Regions from separate parts of the Homo sapiens genome. Here region 2 is linked to region 1. The links come from fine-mapping of genetic effects on gene expression. Tissue or cell type: hypothalamus. Region 1 holds a variant in brackets; the other region holds the start of a gene. All regions are shown on one strand. Distances are from middle to middle.

Region 1 (2,844 bases):
GTATGGAGGAGGATGGACATCCCAACAAAGATGGGGCACCTCAGCATTCCTGCTGTTCTGCCTCCTGGCCCTGCCTGATGGCAGTTTGTCCTCCCCCAGTATCCCTGTCTGTTCCTATACCCGCAACCAGAGGGGAACCTGCCAGACCTGAATGTCTCTGTCTTTACAGGTCTCATCCCACCTCTGCACCAAGGGCAACCCATCACCTTCCTGGAGTAAATTATTCTTATGATTTGAGGAGTTCGTATTCTCATCTGTTTTTCTGTTTACAACATGCTAGCAGCCTTCTGCAAGTAATTGCATGAAATATTTTTTGAGAGAAGTTACAGGCATTTGGGGGATTCCAAAACTTCCAGTTCATATAAGCTCATAAGAGTCTTTATTTTTTATCTGTATGTATATATTTTTTTGCCTTTCACTGGTTAGGACAGTGGTTCTCAAATTTCCATGGGAATTTCTTAGAAAGCCTGTTAGAAACGACTGTGCCCTCCCCCACTCCCTGTCTGCAATCTGGAGTAGAATCTAGGAATGTATATTTAAAGTATGTATCAGAGGTGACCACATGTTGAGAAACACTATTTTAGGAGAAGGCATACCAATCGAACCCTGCTTTGATAGATTACTTGAAGAGGGGGAGCAATTCTAATTTCATATAATTTCATTTTTGTTTAAACGAGGGACTTGAGGAATGCAAAAGCAAAGGTAATATGAATTTTAGATCATCAGGACTTTTTTTCCTTTAAGTACATTTACAACTCAGAAAACAAATCTCTCACCAGGCTGTCTTCCTAACTAGACTTCAGGATGTCATTTGTTCGGATGAAATGGTAATTGCTTGTTTTCCAAATGCCAAGTGTTGGGCTGCTTAAGACCTTGAACAGTCTGGGCCTGGAGAGAAAAGACTCTGGTACTTGGAGTATTTTCAGGGTGTTGAAGTCCCCGAGTTGGTCTTCCCTGAATAGGTTTGTTTCTTTATAAATGGGGACCTCTCCTTGTGAATTAGGTCAAGTTAACATGGACTGCAAACTGGCTGCAGAGTCTGCTTCTGGGGTTCTGCCCCTCTTGCTCCATTTCCCGGCAGAGTTGGAAGCTCCCAGTGTGGAGGA[G/C]GGGGATACGGTAGAGAGGCAGTGAGTCACAGAAGGTGGCCACTCTCAGCAGGTCAGGGAGCAGATGGAATCAAGGATACTCCAGGGTAGCCTCCATCTTTTGAGTTGGAACTGGGCAGCTTTAAGTTTCGACTTTCAGGGTGTGGAGATGGAGACTGGAGATCCTCTTCCCCTTTGGAGAAGGTTCCCAGCACTGCAGCAGCAGAGGGAGCATCTGAGAAAACAGGCAGAGACATGAAGAAAGACATGCAAGGGGCCGAGGCCTTTCAGTCCCTGATGCCTGGTCCCCCTCTGCCAGAGAACATAAGCAACAGAGTCCATTTTAGAAGTCTCTCCATGGCTGTTATGGGGGGACTGGATTGGACAGAAGCAAGAAACAAGGAGACTAGTTGGGAGGAAGTAGAAAAAAGTATATGCTTATTGAAGGAATGAATTTTGTGCTGTGATATTAAGCTGTGGCTTTGGGTCCCTGCTTTGGGCAAAGGCCACTTGCACCATGTTCCTTGGGGACTGCGGTAGGCCATCAGACTTCTGGAAGAGTAAAACCCTTCTCTTCCTGCTCTCCTCCACTGACCCTGTAGATCTCCACTCTTCCTCTTCCTGGGAAGTCCCTGTGGCTGTAGCCCCTGAGATCCCATCCTGCTTTTCTCTGTGCTCTCTGGTGTGTTTGGAGCTCACTCTCAAGCTGGTATTAAGCCTGGTTCTGCTTTGGTGAACCCCACTTCGTTGCCTTTTGTAGTCTGAGCGTGTCTTGCTTAATAGCAAACACTATTTTTTTTCATAGCCTGTTTGGCTCACACCACATTTTTAGCCCACCAGAATTCCCACCCCACCCCTCTACATCCACATTTGAAACACAGGCAGGTAATCTCTGGGCCATGGGGTGACAGCTTACGTGCAGAGCCAAAGTGGCTGCCAAAGTCTATACACCTTTGAGGGGGTTACCCACTCTCCTCAGGCCCTTGCTGCTCTCAAGGAACCCACCACCTAGGTGCTGTGTCCCCAGAGTTCTGCCCTGCAGTTTTCCAATCCCAGGATGCTTAAACATTCAGAAAAAAAAACAGGCATTATTCCTGTCCGTGAAAGCTGAGGGAGGTCTCTAGCACCCTCAAAGCTAGCTTTTGGGCCAGGCATGGCGGCTCACGCCAGCACTCTGGAAGGCCAAGGCAGAAAGATCACTTGACACCAGGAGTTTGAGACCAGCCTAGGTGGCCGGGCGCAGTGGCTCACGCCTGTAATCCCAGCACTTTGGGAGGCCCAGGCGGGCGGATCACGAGGTCAGGAGATTGAGACCACGGTGAAACTCCGTCTCTACTAAAAATACAAAAAATTAGCTGGGCGCAGTGGCGGGCGCCTATAGTCCCAGGTACTCGTGAGGCTGAGGCAGGAGAACGGCGTGAACCCGAGAGGCGGAGCCTGCAATGAGCCGAGATCGCGCCACTGCACTCCAGCCTGGGCGACAGGGTGAGACTCCATCTCAAAAAAAAAAAAAAAAGAAAAAGAAAAGAGATCAGTCTAGGCAACATAGCGAGATCCTATCTCTATTAAAAAAAAAAAGATTTTTTTTTTTAAAAACTAACTTTTGGAGAATCTAAAGCAGGCTTAGATGCTTTGCGAAGATATCTTTTTCTTCTACTCTAGAAGAAGGAAGGAAGATCACAAAGGAAGGCTCAGATCCAAAGTGAATTCTTTGTCTAGTGCATGGTTTATTTTAAATGGGAAAGTTCAAGGTTACAAA
Region 2 (2,672 bases), 22 kb after region 1:
ATTTCTGAAAGAGGAACCCAAGGAGCTTCACACTTGGGGGTTCTAATGCACATTGAAGTTGGAGAAACAGCACTGAAGAGTTTGGTCAGTTCCTTCTAGACCATATACTTGCAATTCTAGTAGTTACCACCATGTGGCTTTGTGGGGGACGGGGGTTGTGGGGGGAGCCTGTACCTCCATGTGGACAGGTGTGGACACTTGAGAGAAAGCATGGCTAGTACCCAAGACAGCCTCCTCTGGTTTCATTTACAAAAAACAATTATTGATGAGGGTAGCGGACTTCATGCGCTGCACCCCTGTTAGTGATCTCTCTTACAACAACCACACAGAAGAGACAGGACTTCCTGAGAACCACATGCCTGAGGAAGGTGCTGGGATGGAGGCTCAGTGGGCCAGGCTCAGTGGAGAGCATCTGCCACTGCTGCACAACTGATCTGTGGCCAGGAGCTGAGCATAAGGACTGTGTTTGCCAGGAGAGCTTGAGGCCATAGGCCTGGGAGCTCCAATCCCTAGTGCTCTCTACCATGACTACTGAATGTTTTCTGGGTGGCTAATGATGGCCAAAAGCTAGGGTTCCCGGATTTATCAAACAAAAATAGAGGATGACTAATTAAATTTGAATTTCAGATAAATAACAGTCTTTAATACAAGTATGTCCTGTGTTTATCTGAAATCCAAATTTAAATGGGTGTCCTGTAATTTATCTAGCAACTTTACCTAGGGTTTCTCTGTGCTGCTCTAACCACAGAAGGGGCTGAAGTCCCCATGTGGCTTGCCCCCAGCTTGGAGCTCCATGATCCTGGCCTTGGGTAGGCCCTATACCCAAGGCAGGTGAAGAGTGTGTATGGACAGGGTATGGATTTCCTGGGCAGGGGCAGGAAGCTCATTCATACTGATCTAGCTCTTATGAGATGCTGGCAGTGTGTTAAACACTTGACTAACATCTCATTTAATCCCCTGACTACCTAGTGAGTCGGGCATTATCATTATTATTTCCACTTTAGAGATGAGGAGACTGAGGCTCCACGATGTTAAGACCACAGGCTGTTTAATGGAGGAGCAAGGTTGACATCCCTGGGGCTGGTGCCAAGTCTGGGAGTAGCTGAATCTCCCAGGCCATTCTCTCTGGCAATCCCAAGAGTTTAACGCAGTGGGAGCAGCCCCTGCCCCCGAATCCCCAGGACAGGAACCATTCCCAGTTTCTCTTGGCGCTGGCCCAGGGTCTTCTCCAGGCTCACATGCTTGCTGGAGGCTCCAGGCGGGTGGGGAGATCTGCAGGGTCCCTTTGTTCCCGTCCGGCCAGGACAGTGTCCAGTGGCACGAGTTGCCATGGGGACTGCCATCTGCTGTGTGGATACCCATCGGAGGGGCCCAGGGTGAGCGACTGCCCCAAAGGCCCAGCCTGCCCTGAGCCCTGAGGCCAGCTGGTCGGCTTTCCCTGCCATTATCCCCCGAGCCAGGCCGGAGTGGGGCTCCCAGAGGAGCTCTCGGCTCTAAGTCCCAGCCCCTCTCAGAGGAGGCGTGCGGCCGAGGTTCTGCAGCCAGAGGCTTCTCGGCTCTGAGCTCCGGAGCCAGATGTAACATTGACCTTAAATGGTAAAAGCTCCCCAGAGTGAAGAGAGGCTGGCCAGAGGAGGAAAGGAGAATAACTCAGTTTTAGGTAAGCCTCCCCTATATCCTAGAATAACCTGCCTCTTCGGCTGGGAAGCGGAGGGAACCTTCTCTTCCTTAAAGGTACAGGGTGCTGGGATGGGGGTGCTAAACTTTAACTTTCCAGGGGAGCTGGCTTTGTTGGGTGGCATTTCAGCTGAGTATCTTTATTGTTGCTGTCTTAAGTTTTAAATCAGAAGTGAATCTTGCCAGTCCTAACTTAACTAGATTGTGCTCCTTTTGCTTGCCGTTGGAAAGTGTGCACAGCTCAGGGTGAAAATGTGGGTCCTGACAGGCGATTGCAACCCCTAGCTTTCCTGTGGGCCCCTTTGTGGCAACAGTGGGGTCTTCAGCTTTGGCAAGTCTGCTAAGCAGAGCTTTCTCCCCTCTGTGCTTCCTGTGTCTCTCTCTCTGTCCCCCTACGCCCCTCTGCCTTGAACCTGGGCTGGCATGACCTGTCTAGATCCTTAAGCCTGCCTCTATTTCTGTCTCTGCCCTTCCCATCCTGTGTTCTTGTCACAGTCCCTGTTTTTATCTCTGTCCCTGTCTCCTCTTTTGTCTCCAGCTTCCCCTGGCCTGTGCCCTTCCCTGCTCCCTAGAGGGGGTGTATGTGCCCGGCCCGTGCCCGGCCCTGCTCACCTCCAGGGCTCCGAGTTGAAGCGATTCCTAGAGTGAGCACCATTTGAACTGGCTTTTTCCAAAGGAAAAGCCAGTGGAAGCCAGAGGCCAGAGAGAGGCCCAGCTGTCTTGCTCCCTCCTGCCCAGGAAACAGTTGTAAAGGCTATAGAGGCTCTGCAGTTTGAGTAAACAGCAGCCCGGGGTCTGGGACCCCTGGCCAGCACTCCAGCCTCCCAGAGCTCGGCAGCTGCTGAACACTCTTCAGGCTGCTCACTGGGGTGGCACAGGGAAGTAAATCTGGTCTGAGCAGAGTCTTTTGCAGGGAAAAGGAGGAAGCTTCCTGGGACTGTGAGGCTGGGGGTCCAAAGGAGTCAGGACCTGCCAAGGATTGTATTGCCCCCACC

Which allele goes with the higher level. Positions count from the first base shown, and alleles are read on the strand shown. Sizes are in standard deviations (SD) of each study's normalised expression.
With allele C in place of G in region 1, the expression in hypothalamus of the gene that starts at base 1,441 in region 2 is lower (moderate effect, 0.48 SD a copy in GTEx).

The links. PIP is the estimated chance that this variant, and not a neighbour inherited with it, causes the effect.
Region 2: IRAG1 starts here. The variant in region 1 is fine-mapped to the expression of IRAG1 in hypothalamus (GTEx, PIP above 0.99). The same link has a PIP of 0.9 or more in caudate, nucleus accumbens, prefrontal cortex and spinal cord.

What each region holds. Positions count from the first base shown.
Region 1 is chr11:10,714,018-10,716,861 of GRCh38, reverse strand. No RefSeq gene overlaps it. Among named protein-coding and RNA genes, the nearest start is that of IRAG1, 22 kb to the right of the region's middle. The variant G/C (reference allele first, on the strand shown) is at 1,107.
Region 2 is chr11:10,692,524-10,695,195 of GRCh38, reverse strand. It overlaps IRAG1 (inositol 1,4,5-triphosphate receptor associated 1), which reads left to right and starts at 1,441. Exons shown (of 21, transcript NM_130385.4): 1 at 1,441-1,660. The coding sequence starts at 1,594.